4 linked regions of the Homo sapiens genome follow. The protein of the gene in region 1 purifies or fractionates together with the protein of each later gene. This does not show direct contact. Each region holds a gene or a part of one and is shown in the gene's direction. Other genes may lie near its edges.

Region 1 (3,500 bases):
GCAGTTAGTAAGCACTTGATAAAGATTAACTGTTATGATCCTTCCTCTGAGAATACCCTCTGTCTCCACATTCCTCCTTTAAACCCAGCTCCTGCAGGATGCTTTTTGACCAACCTATTGAGGTCATTAAAATAATTCCTGCATTTCCCCTCTGATACATAATCATCAAGTATTGGTTACTTATATGTTCTCTTCAAAGGTTCATACACATTTTTCTTATTCTGGCCATAAAATTATTAGTTTGTGCAACTACAACTCGACAAATGTGTTTGGAGTAGCTCCTGATTGCGCTGCTATGCTGGGTATCTTAGGTACTATAAAAGAAATAAAACACATAGCCCCTTCTTTCAAGAAATTTAAAGTTTCATCTAGGTAGGCCGAATTTTTCTGGAACTTTATGCCAAGTCTACCAACTGCACTAATGAGGTTTTGGTAAAATGTTTATATTTTTCTGGATTATTGTATAGTAATGATTTCTTTCACTGTATTATGATAAAGTAACAATTCATTATTCCTGCTTATTAGTGAAAATTCAAAATAGTCTAGAGATTTCTTATAGTATATCCATTTATATGTGTTTATGAGAGCATATGATGTATGTATATGAGTATGTTACAGGGTTTCTTAACAAAAAGTTAAAATAACTCTACAAGTGATCCAAAAGGATTAATTTACCTCCTTGTATAATTCCAGGAAACAATCTGAATAATAGTAGCCTTAAGAATTTTTACAGCATTTATAGCTTTATGAGTAAAAAGAGGTTCTACAATACTAAAACCCAACAGAAAATTGGATGGTAGCTTCCTTATCTGAATTTCTGGTAGAATTACATAAAATGTGAGTGAAATTTTGCTAGCCTCTAGCTTGCTTCATTATTATTAGAACAAGAAATTCTATTTGTCTTTCATCATCACCATTAACAGGAATTGTACTCTGTAAAAAATGCTGATTAGCATTGGAAATATAAAAAAGAATAAGACAGTTTCTGCCCTCGGATATTTTGTATTCAACTCGGTCAAACTGGACAAGGTCATGAACTCATCAAGGTTAGGAATTATATCATCTCCATCTTTGTACACCCTGTGTCCAGCACGATGTTTGGAATATGAGTGATGGTCAATATTCTTTGTTGAATGAGTGAATGAACAAAAAATTACAATACAAGGTACATGTGGAGGAAATAGTGTGCTACAACAAGTATCAGAAAAAGGAGAAATCAATTTTGAGTAGGATCAGTTGGAACTAGAGTTAGGACTTTAACTGACCCTTGAAGAAAGTGGCTTAAACAGAAAAAGATTAAGAGATTGGAGTAAGTTCAAGGGCTGGTGAACAGAGCAGTGAGCTAAAGGAGGTTTTCTAGGGAGGAAGCAGGAAGTAAGATTCTAAACTGATGGGAAATGGGAAGGTTCTGGCTTAGCCAGGGAGTTAAGACCTAATTCTATGGAAGATAAATGGCAGTAAAGGCTTTTTGAACAAGTAGTTGATAGATGCAGAAGAGTGTTTTAAGAAGATTCATGTGGAATTGCAGTGAGAAGGGATGGAGGCAAGAAGTCAAGGCTAATGATGATGAGGACCTGTGGGTGAAGGGCAGTAACAGGGATAGGATACAAGGGGTAGATATGACAGATGTTACAAAGGAGGAACTTAGCCTGTGACTGGCTGGATTTGAAGGGACAGAAAGAATGAGGAATCCAGGATGACTTCCCAGTTTTGAGCCTGAGTGGCTATGGAAATAATGAGTCCTCTTACAGAAGGAGGGGCACTCCAAAGGGAGTCCGTCTGTGGTCAAAGAGCAATTTCATTGCAGTCATGTTGCATTTGAGGTGGCAGTGGAAGATCTTAGTAGAGGCAGTTTATAGATGCACAGCTGACTGTGAAAATTTCAAGAAGGAATTGAAATAGATTTTTTTTTTGAGACAGGGTCTCACTCTGTCACCCAGGCTGAAGTGCAGTGACTCAGTCACAGCTCACTGTAGACATGACTTCCCAAGCTCAAGCAATCCTCCTGCCTCAGCTGCTGGAGTAGCTGGGACTACACATGTGCCACCATGCCTGGCTTATTTTTTAATTTTTTGTAGAGATGGAGGTCTTGCTATGTTGCCCAGACTGGTCTTAAACACCAGTGTGGGTAAACTGTTAGAATCATTGAGGGAAAAAATTGTTTGGCATTATCTACTTAGCTAAAGATATACCCAACAGAAATGAGTGTACATGTGCATCATGAGGCACTACAAGAATGTTCATAGAAGTGTTGTTTGTAATAGCCCAAAGGTGTAAACAACCCGGAACTCCAAAAAACAAAAGAATGGAAAAATAAATTGTGGTATACTCACACAATACTGCAGAAATCAGCAAATACCCTTAAAGGGTTGGATGGTAAATATGAGGTCTCTGTCACAACTATTCAACTCTCCTGTTGTAGCGCTAAAGCAGCCATAGACAATATATAACAAAACAGACCACAGGCCACAGTTCGCCAACTCTTAGCACACTGCAGTGGAAACAGAGGAACTACAATTACACAAGATGAATTCCACAAGCATAATATTGAGTGAAGACAGACACACAAGTCCATGCTATATGCTTCCCTTTATATGCTCAAACGGAAGTATAGTGTTTAGGGCTGCATTCTGGGAAGTAAACTAAGAAGAAAGGCAAAAAAAAGTCATTATCATAAAAATCAGGGTATTACGGAGGGGACAGGAGCATTGTGATGGGAAAGGGTAAAGGCTTCTGAAGTGCTGGCTATTTTCTAATTTTTGAATGGATAGTGGTTACCCTAGTGCAGGGGTCCCCAGCCCCCAGGCTGCAGACTGGTACTGGTCTGTGGCCTGTCACGAACAGGGCCACACAGCCAGAGGTGAGCAGCAGGCCAGTGAGCATTACTGCCTAATTAGCAACGGCATTGGATTCTCATAGGTTCTCATAGGAGCATGTATTGTGAACTGCGCGTGCAAGGGATCTAGGTTGCAAACTTCTTATGAGAATCTAACTAATGCCTGATGATCTGAAGTGGAACAGTTTCATCTCAAACCGTCCACTCCCCACCCACATCTGTAGAAAAACCGCCTTCAATGAAACCAGTCCCTGGTGCCAAAAAGTTGGGGACCGCTGTCCTAGTGTTAGTAGTTTTAAGCATGTTTTGTGTCTTTTTCTTTTATATGTTACATTTCCACTCACCCCAACCCCAAAAAAATTTGAAAAAAAAAAAGGCTGAATAGGAAGTGAGTAGGGATAAGGCAAACATGGCTGAAAGACAAGATATACAAATACTCAGAAGAGAGAAAACTCTGTGGTCTGTCTGGAAACTGAAAATAAAACAGAATGGTAGGAATGTAGCATATTAAGAAGATAGCAGTGAAACATAAGACTTCAGGAGTTTGGTCATAATTTGGTCCTTCATATATCTGCCTATAACCATGAAATACATAGTTCAATAGAATTTTATTGTATTTTAAAACTGCAGTTAGGAAGAACCAAAACAGTGAGTAGATAATCAC
Region 2 (3,500 bases), on another chromosome or scaffold:
CTGTTTGGGACAGAAATTTGCAAGGATCCATTCTGTGTTGCTATGATTACTGCCAGCTCCTTTTCCATGTCATCACCTTTCTAGATCCTGATTGGTCTTGATTTTGAGATGATACAGAAGTAGTCCTTTAATCATTTCATCATTATTCACCTCACATTTAGCAAGTTTATTGCCAGAGACAAGATACTCGCTGGCAAGATTGTCAGGGTTTATTTGATTTTGAGGAGAGTTGGGCAAGTGGTCATTTGTATGGAATTACTTTTTAGAAGGCTGTTATTACTACTAAAGTCTTACTATTTAGCTTCCCAGCTTAAGCTCCAGTGGGGGCTTCAGTGCCTCATCGGGTAAAGGCCACATTCCAGCCTGGAATATGCAGTCTGGCCACACTCGTTCATAGCCTCATCTGTTCCCACTCTCCCCCACCCCACCCACCCTTACAGTATGAAACCCATTTGCTATTCATCGAAGGAGTTTTTCTTCTTCTTTTTTTTTGGAGACAGAGTCTTGCTCTGTCACCCAGGCTGGAATGCAGTGGCGCAATCTCGGCTTACTGCAACCTCCGCCTCCCGGGTTCAAGCGATTCTCCTGCCTCAGCCTCTCGAGTAGCTGGGACTACAGGCGTGCACCACCACGCCCGGCTATTATTTGTATTTTTAGTAGAGATGGGGTTTCACCATGTTGGCCAGGCTTGTCTCGAATTCCTGGCCTCAGGTGTTCTGCCCGCCTCGGTCTCCCAAAGGGCTAGGATTACAGGCGTGAGCCACTGTGCCCGGCCAGAAGTTTTCTTCTTTCACACTTCTAGTGCCTTTCTCCTGCTTGTTCACCTGACAAAATTCTCCCTTTCCCTTAAGAGTCTTTTCGAGCATTATCTCTGGGACACCCTTCTCTAATACCCTGAAGCAATTTAGGGGTCTTTCCTCTTTGGTCTCAGAGTACCTGGTTAGTACCTCTAGCAGATACCACATGGTACTATAACTGTTTACCAGTAGGCCCTTGATTAATACTAGCCTGGTGAGTGATTTTGGATATCAATGCTTGTTTCTTTTTGGCAGATCCCCTAGACCCTTCCTTCCCAGTGGAGTTTGTAAGACATGGAGACATTATTCGACTAGAACACAAAGAGTAAGTCAATTTGCAGTTTGGATAAATAAATGGTACGGGCACCAAGGGGAGGGAGTTATTTTAAGAAGTAAACAGAAGTTAGATTTTGATGAGGCTCTGGTCAATGGAGCAAGGCCACAGTGCGAGAATGGGAGAAGCATTTTATGAAGGTGATGAAATTGCAGGCCAGCCTTTGCCTGCCTTCTGGGGACCTTTCAATTTCCCATTTCCTAGAGGAAAATTTGAGTTGCTGAAAGCTGCTGCTGCTGTTTTTTTTTGAGACAGAGTCTCACTATGTTACCCAGGCTGGCCTCAGAGTCCTGGGCTCAAGCGATCCTCCCGCTTCAGCCTCCCAAATGGTTGCTATTACAGGCATGAGCCATCACACCCAGCTCCCAAAGCTTCTTCTTAAGTGGCTGCCTTTAGAAAGACGTAGGAGTCTGTTTCTGAGAATATGGCAAGCTAGCTTATTTAACCAGTGTTCTCACTGAAAATGACTAAAAATGCTGGAATAATATAAAGACTTCTTAAGAGCATAAAAAGGCTGACAAGATATTAAAGAGTTACCAGGCCAAAGCCTAAGTGAAATGAGGAATCCAGAGAAATAAGTGAGACACTGAAGCCACTTTTGCTTTGATCCCACAATCTTGACTTTTGGCTGTCTCTTGAGAGAAGAGGTTTTAAAGTCAAACCTAGGCTCACCCAAAGTGGTAAATTTATTAAGTTATCCTTCCCCATATTTGGAACCCCCAAAGGCTTGGGGTAAGGGTAAATCTGCCCTATCCACTTATGCCCAGGTCCACTTTAGGACCCAGCTAAGTGTTGGGGGTTGGGTGGTGAACTGTCCTTAGTTCCTGAGAAGTTGGAACTACCATTTGATCCTCACATGAACTTGGAGCTCAAATTCATGTTGCCTGGGTGATCTCAGAATCTCCAAGACATGAATTTAAATGAACATGATCCTAGATTGGTCGTGTCTCCTAGGTGCATGGCTAAAAGCAAATGTAAGCCCTCTTTGGGGAAAGTCGTTGTCATTTGTTCCCATAGTTTTTTAGTGACAATAGTACACACCCAAAAGTAACAAAGCACACAAGGAAATAGGGCACTGTGTGCAAGAACAAGCTGAAACGACAGACAGCAGGAGCAGCCCCGTAAACATTTCATAGACTGGAATTATCGGATACAAATTTTTAAAAATCAGAGGTGTGTATGTGTGTGGGTATATATATATATATATAGAGAGAGAGAGAGAGAGAGAGAGAGACAGAGACAGAGAGAGAAGCAATTAGCTATGGTTTTTTTTTGAGTCAGCTGGATTTTGAATACTTAAAATTTTTATTTTATTAAATAAATTTCATTTGTCATTAATAAAAATTTATTGTAATTAAATTTTACTTTTGCAAATTTTCAGAAATTTTATAATGAACATTTATTATTTGTTCCAGATAAAAGTGAGAGTTGTTATATAAAACTAAATAAAAGCTAAATTAAACCCCTCTCATCCTCCACAGATGTCCACTTAAAAAAATCTGGCGATGGGAGCAGAAAGAGTAAGTGGCAGTGAGGAGGTTACCTAGCTCAGGCCATGCAGATTACAAGTTTTAATTTTTCCTCTCCTCAAACCTGCCTCCTAAGTCAGGCAAGCTAAGTGCTTCAAAGCTACTAAATGTGTGAAAGTCGCCCCCCACCTCCCTGCCAGCACCTAAAGTTAGCCCCTTTCTTGGCATGCCGTCCAGTGCTCCTACCATCTGTCTCTCCTGGTTTGGGCTCATCTCTTCTCCAGTTCTCAGGATATTTCTTGTGAGTAAATAGGAAACCAGTTCCTGATATGTTGGATTTAATAGTTCAGATTCTAATTTTTCTTATCCTGACAGTTGACTCTGAACATCCTTGGTAAAAGAAGAAATGTTGCACATCATCTTTCTATAGGATAATGACACTTCTCTTTTCTAACTTCTAGAACTTCCCGGAACTTGCACAGTCACTATCATGAGGCCCCCATGACCCGGAAGCACTATCAGGTCACCGGCTATGGCATAGTAAGTAAGCAACGGGGATGTGAGTAGGACGTAAAAGTTATGGGCCTTGGCTCAGGGCTGTGTGGTGGGATATCTCCTCCCCAGAATTCTGGAATGTTCCTGAGGATAAGAGGCTGCACAGGGACTCTCTTAACATTTGGGCACTTTTTGGCTAGGCCTGCTCTGGGAAAAGCAGCCTATGAAGTCTGTTTGTCTCCATCTCTCTCCTCACATAATAACCATGCCATTTACATGCTCTGATACTTAATAAATGTCAAATATGAATACTATTTGGATCTCTTTTAAAATCACATTGGACATAGAAGCCAAGGACCCACAATATGACCCCAGATGAACAACATGTATGTTTATCTTTTGCCA
Region 3 (3,500 bases), on another chromosome or scaffold:
TCATTATAGTCATTGTAGTTCTATTTTTATAAGACTGGGCTCTACTTTGCCATTTTAAGCTAAACTGATGCACAGTTAAGCATTATTAGTTGAAATATGCTGTGATCTCAATTCCTATTTAAATTGTAAGGTCTTCTAATAGATGGTGTTGTTGGAGTTCAGATACACATGAATTTCATTTTGCTAGAAATTTGCTCCTTTTAATGTTGGGGACTTAAAAGACACCCAAGGAAAAGAAGTCATCCAAAGATATAATAATGAGAACCGGAAAAGTATTTTGTTAAATTTGTATGTGTCATTAAGATAGGACCTTTATGATTTTGATGTTAAACAAATGTAAGATAAACAGCTTACAAAAACTGTGGCCATCTTGGATTGTGCTGTGAGACTTCCAAGCAGAGACAAAAAGACTTTCACCTGCCTCCAGCTGGACTTCAGAACTTCGTTTCCTTAGGGTTCTTGACAGTGTTTGTATGAAACAAACCCTGTTCTGTGCTGTGTACGATGAGTAAGCTTCCCAAGTTAAAATTATTGCTCCACACCACAGATTTCAGATTCCAAGTGGAACAGAAGTCCAAAGTTGCTGTTTATAAACTTCTAAGGGTCGATTGTACCTTTCAATGGTGTCCACCCTGTGTTGACATACAGCAAAACCGAAGGGCTCTTGAAACTTCTAACCACTTTCTGAATTACAGCGAAGAATATTCTTTGCATGGTATCAAAGTTCTACAATGTCTCAGTAATTTTACATATTGAAAAAAGTCATTGATTTCCATATTCAGTCCTCTGCGCTGTCTTCTCATTTCAAGTAGTCTCATGTTCCATGTATTATTACGTTATTTGAGGAATTAAAAAAAAAAAAAAAAGAACTGGGGAATCTCCAAGAGCTGGCGGGAATATTGGCTTTGAGAAAGGAACCTTAGAATTCAAACGTAATGTTTTACCTAAAAAGGAGTCCAGTTTCCAACACTTGGGCTGGGAACGACAGGCTATGGTTGCCCAGGATCTGAAGTACAGAGGAAATTGCTTGTCCTTCTGGTGGGAGAGTTTGTCTCTAGAGGATCAGGAGGATCAGGAGGGTCAGGAGAAGGGCAGGGTGTGGCCGGGAGGAAGGGGCATGGTTAGAGATTTCTTTTCTTGATCATTTTCATCCCAGTTCAGCACTGAGTTCAGATTTCCCTTCCTTCCTTCCTTCCTTCCATCTGTCCTTCCTTCCTCCTTTCCTCCCTCTCTCCCTCCCTCCTCCCCCTGTCCCTCTCCTTCCTCCTTCCTCCCTCTCCCTCTCTGTCTCTCCCCCCTACCTTCCTTCCTTCCTTCCTCCCTCGCTCCCTCCCTCCTTTTTTCTTTTCTTTTCTTTCTCTCTGTCTCTCTCCCTTTCTCTTTCTCTCTCCTTCTCTCTCTCTCCCTCCTTTCCCTTCCCTTCCCTTCCCTTTCCCTTCCCTTCCCTTCCTTTCCCTTTCCCTTTCCCTTTCCTGACAGAGTCTTGCTCTTGTCACCCAGGCTGGAGTGCAATGGCGCGATCTCAGCTCACTGCAACCTCCACCTCCCAGGTTCAAGCGATTCTCCCTCCTCAGCCTCCCGAGTAGCTGGGATTACCTGCCATCATGCCTGGCTAATTTTTGTATTGTTGTAAAGACAAGGTTTCACCGTGTTGGCCAGGCTGGTCTCTTAACTCCTGACCTCACGTGATCTGCCCACCTCGGCCTCCCAAAGTGCTGGGATTATAGGCGTGAGACACCACTGCCGATCCTCTCTCTTTCTTTCTCTCTCTCTTTCTCTTTCTTTGTTTTCTCTCTCTCTCTTCTTTCCCTCCCCTCCCCTTCCCTTCCCTTCTCTGCTGTGTTTCCATTCTAGAAGTTCTTTCCTTCATCCCCTCGTTGCTCCTGCAGAGCATTTACTCTGACAGTGCCCCCCACCCAAGGCTCGTGGCTGCCTGGCTGTTGGATGACAGTAATGCATGCACTGCACGTCTCCCCCAGAGGAGTAATGCCGGGGACCATTTGTAGATGGATGGGAAACTGAAGCAAAGCGTGCTTCAATTTAGATTCCCCAAACTGCCAGAGCCCCAATAAAACTAGACAACTGTTGTTACCTTTAACAGAGGGTTTGCTTCTATTTTCATGTGTAACACACAAGCCCATGGCCTTGACTGGGCTTGGAGGAGGATTGTTAGTGTTTAGGTATTGTAGTCTCTGAGGCAGATGCACGTGCGTCTGCTCAAGTTTAACATCAGCAGCCGCTCTCTCATATTCTGTGTCTGTCTTTGCTGTCGTAGAATCCCAGTGTTCCAATGCAGAAGTTGCAGGATATCCAGAGAGCAATGGAGCTGCTATCCGCATGCCAGGGCCCAGCCAGGAACATTGATGAGGCTGCAAAGCACAGATACCAGTTTTGGGACACACAACCGGTACCAAAACTAGGTAAGTTTTTCTGCTTTTCTCTTTTTTTCCCCACAAACAAAGCTGGATGAACAACAACAACAACAACAACAACAACAACAAAACACAAAGAGTGTTAACTTCACATGTATCATTTATTTCATACCACAGATTGGAAATCTATGCAAGACTAATATTTTTCTTCTGAAAATATAAATATTAGATAGTGACATTGGCTTTTGATAACCATTATTTTAGTCCAATTTCTATCCCAATAAAAACATCCAATTTCCCCACACTTGAAACATTACTAGTATTATTATTATTTTTGAGATAGGGTCTCACTCTATCACCCAGGCTGGAGTGCAGTGGCATGATCATAGCTCACTGCAGCCTCCACCTCCTGGGCTCAAGTGATCCATCCTCCCATGTCAGCCTCCCATGTATCTGGGACCACAAGTGCACACCACCACACCTGGCTAATTTTTGTATTTTTTTGTAAAGACGCTGTTTCAGTATGTTGCTTGGGCTGGTCTCGAACTCCTGGGCTCAAGTGATCCACCTGCCTTGGCCTCCCAAAGTGCTGGGTTACAGGTGTGAGCCACCGCACCTAGCCCATTAGAGTATTAAAAATGTATATAAGGTTCTGTGATGGAAGGACCAGGCCCTGAAGGTCCCTCATGGAGCAGGTGTCTGTTGAGTGTCTGTTATTAAATGCCAGGCATAGTCCAGGGCACACACCTGGAAACAGTGGTGGAAAAGTAGGACAAAAGGTGGCCAGGCTGGGGAGGAGCGGCCACACTGAGGTAGAGAAAGGCTTTAGTTAAGCAACAGATGCTGGGAGAAAGTGACGTGTGATGCGTAAGCTTCTGTCGGGAATTCCAAGGGGCCCGTCCCTTGAGGACCAGAGGGCCTCAAGCCTAAGGAAGGCACCAGGAAGGCCCTGAGCTGAGGCCTGCCCCGGTCATCATGGCCAGAGCACTGGGAGCAGGGGGCAGGGAGGGTGTGGAGAGGGGCCGAGGCAGGCAGCAGCCATGGGGAAGAGCCTGGGTTTTAGTCCTACCATGTTGGGAAGCTCTGCAGAGAAGGACTTGGAAAACTCTTCTTGGTGGAAATCACTAG
Region 4 (3,500 bases), about 140 Mb from region 1:
TTAAAGTTATCCATGCAGGATGAACAGAGAAGCCTTCAAGTAGTAATGAGGACTTCTTAGATAAGCAAATAATTAAAATAGAATTTTCTGCATTTAGAACAGTTTTTGGTCTTAACATACTGAAATAATATAAAATTCACCTAATGAGCCAGGTGCGGTGGCTCACACCTGTAATCCCAGCACTTTGTGAGGCCGAGGTGGGCAGATCACCTGAGGTCAGGAGTTACAGACCAACCTGGCCAACATGGTGAAGCCCCGTCTCTACTAAAAGTACAAAAATTAGCCTGGCATGGGGGCGCATGCCTGTAATCCCAGCTACTTGGGAGGCAGAGGCAAGAGAATCACTTGAACCCAGGAGGCGGGGGTTGTAGTGAGCTGAGATCGTGCCACTGCATTCCAGCCTGGGTGACACAGTGAGACCCCATCTCAAAAAAAAAAAATACACACATATGTATATTTATATATAATATATATTTATATATAATATATATTATATATATTTATATATAATATATAAATTTATATATTATATATTATATATTTATATATAATTATATATAAATTATATATATTATATATAATATATATAAAAATACACATTAGATGAAATATATATATATATTTTGTCTAATCATGTTCTTATCCTAAATTGTGAGGCATTTTATTTTATTTATTTTTATTGTTGAGACAGAGTCTCAGGCCAGAGTGCAGTGGCGCGATCTCTGCTCACTGCAACCTCCACCCCCCCAGTATCAAGCAATTCTCCTGCCTCAGCCTCCTGAGTAGCTGGGACTACAGGCGTGCACCAGCACGCCTGGCAAATTTTTTGTATTTTTAGTAGAGACGGGGTTTCTCCATATTGGCCACGCTGGTCTCCAACTCCTGACCTCGTGATCCGCCTGCTTCGGCCTTCCAAAGTGTTGGGATTACAGGCGTGAGCCACCACGCCTGGCCTGCAAGGCATTTTATAACTATTTGAACCTGAATTTTAAAAAATATATTATTCACTTATTTATTCATTCATTTACTCAAAAAATATATTGAATGCTTTGTATGAGGCTCTGTTTAGGCTCTGAGTATGATAGTAAAAGCAAGTCTTTGCCCTTATGGAGCTTACAATAGTTGTCAGTTTGACAAAATAAGGAAGCAGGCTATGGCAGACAATTGTTAGACTGATAAAAGATTGACATGGTTTACTAAGCATTTCTAAATAAAGCTTGAAAGTAAATTTGGCTGTTCATATAATTAGCACACAGTCAACAAATGTTATTACTCATGAAGTATTAATCTCAATTCTATTATTGAAATCTCAACACCCCATTTACTCCAAAAGCAGGTGCAGTTAATAACCAAAGCAGGCCACAAAGCCACAGCAGTGGAGAATTTAGCCTGCTTCATGACCATGAGGCTTGGTCCAGCAGTGGTAGCAGTCCAATCCAGTACTTGAAAAGACAGACCAGATCAAGCCCAGTGCTCCAGCACAAAATATCTGAAACACTGGAGAGTCGACATCACAAGATCAAAACTGGTTCCCCTGGAAGTGAAGTTGTTACTCTACAACAGTTTTTGGAAGAAAGCAATAAGCTTACCTCAGTACAGGTTAGTTTTATCTATGATGACCTTAATTTAGATGAACACCACAAGTTAAATTTCTGTAATTGAACTTCAGAGCTTTTTTTTTTTGGTAAGTTAAGGAGTATTAAGAGGTACCACAATTTTATATTGCACAGTCTGCTAAATCAGGAAAGTAAAAACATGGCACTATATTCACTAATCTGCTTTGAATTTTTTTTTAAACAGATAAAGTCCTCAAGTCAAGAGAATCTTTTAGATGAAGTAATGAAAAGTTTGTCTGTCTCTTCTGACTTTTTGGGAAAAGACAAACCAGTTAGCTGTGGTCTGGCCAGGTCAGTAAGTGGAAAAACCCCAGGGGACTTCTATGATAGACGGACAACTAAGCCTGAGTTTTTGAGACCTGGTCCTCGAAAAACTGAAGATACCTACTTCATTAGTTCTGCGGGAAAACCTACACCAGGCACTCAAGGAAAAATAAAATTAGTAAAAGAATCTTCTCTGTCACGACAATCAAAAGATAGTAACCCTTATGCAACTTTACCTCGTGCAAGCAGCGTGATCTCAACTGCCGAAGGAACTACACGAAGGACAAGCATCCATGATTTTTTGACCAAGGACAGTAGACTGCCTATATCAGTTGATTCACCACCAGCTGCTGCTGACAGCAACACCACTGCAGCATCTAGTGAGTACCATTTACACCAGTGGTCCTCTCATATACTTGACATCCCAACACATACTATAGGTTCTTGTGCCCAAAATGATTTAGCTATAGACATGCCTGAGCCTCTATATGCCCAGGCTAGAAACTCAAGAACAGGAAGGTCACATTTTCTAAACCAAACTTTTGCCACTATTAGGATGCCTAGTGATGCATTCGGAATGTTGGCAAAAGATAGCATAGGACCATTTACTGTGGCCCATTCATCTCAGCCATTCTTATCCCTGAATACAGAATTAGTTAGTAACATAAGTGGGTTACCTCCTAGGCCAGTTATCAGAATAACTGACCAGGCTTCTGCCTCTTTGGATAAACCTGCACAGAAAGAAAATGAACAGTTTTCTGATCATCAGAACCCTAGTAACAGTAACCTACAGTTTTCTATAAATAGCAACAATCTTGTCACTTCTGCATGCCTCTATCCTGATGACACAGAAGCTGCATTGTTGGTTTCTGAGGATAATCAAACTGTTTGGTATGAATATGGTTGTATATGATCAAAACTGCACAATATAATATATTGATGTTATTTGATATACACTGCTTCTCTAATATGATTTGAAAAGTTGCTGTTAACAAAATATCATTTGGCTAGGTTTTTATTTTTTATTTAAAATTGTTGCACAGTGTTCAGCTGTACATGATGGCATGTATATTAATGTGAATGTGTAACCACACCAAAACCTGCATGAAATATTAATTACTTTGTCCATTTTCTGCATGCCTTTAAAAACCTTAACCATACATGCTCCTCCTTCACATTTTTTGTTGCCTGATAAGATTGTTACTTTGATATCCAGAAGCATGTTAAAACAGTTGCATGCTCTCTTACCAAGAAGACATTTCCAAGTCATATTTGCTTTGTTGCTTCTGGAAAAAAATGTTCATTTCCTCCCTCCCTTCCTCCTCTTCCCACCCCTCACTTGCTCTGACTGTCACTCCTTTTTTTCTTCCAGAATGTGTACTTTATATTACATATGTACAGTATCAGTAGGGAAAATGTAAAAAGATGTTGTTTTCTTTTGTCATTTAATTAGGCCATCTGTCCTGTTTTAAAGAAATAGTTAATAATTCAACACTTTATATAACAAATATTAACTAATACCCATATTTATAAAACATTTTTCAGATTTAAAAGATTGTTAATACTTATAAACTTAGTGTTATTCTTAGAAAACCCCATCAAATTTAAATGTGATTTACA

The links. The genes of interacting proteins can lie anywhere in the genome.
Region 2: the proteins of RFTN2 (region 1) and POMT2 purify together in Homo sapiens (affinity purification with mass spectrometry; 2 studies listed by BioGRID and IntAct, with this or other methods). This does not show direct contact.
Region 3: the proteins of RFTN2 (region 1) and NMT2 purify together in Homo sapiens (affinity purification with mass spectrometry; one large-scale study listed by BioGRID and IntAct). This does not show direct contact.
Region 4: the proteins of RFTN2 (region 1) and CCDC88A purify together in Homo sapiens (affinity purification with mass spectrometry; 2 studies listed by BioGRID and IntAct, with this or other methods). This does not show direct contact.

What each region holds. Positions count from the first base shown.
Region 1 is NC_000002.12:197,669,088-197,672,587, reverse strand, and holds part of RFTN2 (raftlin-2), read left to right. Parts: intron 1-3,500. UniProt on the Homo sapiens protein: Upon bacterial lipopolysaccharide stimulation, mediates clathrin-dependent internalization of TLR4 in dendritic cells, resulting in activation of TICAM1-mediated signaling and subsequent IFNB1 production.
Region 2 is NC_000014.9:77,286,384-77,289,883, reverse strand, and holds part of POMT2 (protein O-mannosyl-transferase 2), read left to right. Parts: intron 1-1,052; coding exon 1,053-1,122; intron 1,123-2,612; coding exon of another isoform or gene 2,613-2,651; intron 2,652-3,061; coding exon 3,062-3,140; intron 3,141-3,500. UniProt on the Homo sapiens protein: Transfers mannosyl residues to the hydroxyl group of serine or threonine residues. Coexpression of both POMT1 and POMT2 is necessary for enzyme activity, expression of either POMT1 or POMT2 alone is insufficient.
Region 3 is NC_000010.11:15,134,194-15,137,693, reverse strand, and holds part of NMT2 (glycylpeptide N-tetradecanoyltransferase 2), read left to right. Parts: exon of another isoform or gene 1-2,275; coding exon 2,276-2,420; intron 2,421-3,500.
Region 4 is NC_000002.12:55,294,357-55,297,856, reverse strand, and holds part of CCDC88A (girdin), read left to right. Parts: intron 1-1,333; coding exon 1,334-1,599; intron 1,600-1,800; coding exon 1,801-2,260; intron 2,261-3,500. UniProt on the Homo sapiens protein: Bifunctional modulator of guanine nucleotide-binding proteins (G proteins). Acts as a non-receptor guanine nucleotide exchange factor which binds to and activates guanine nucleotide-binding protein G(i) alpha subunits.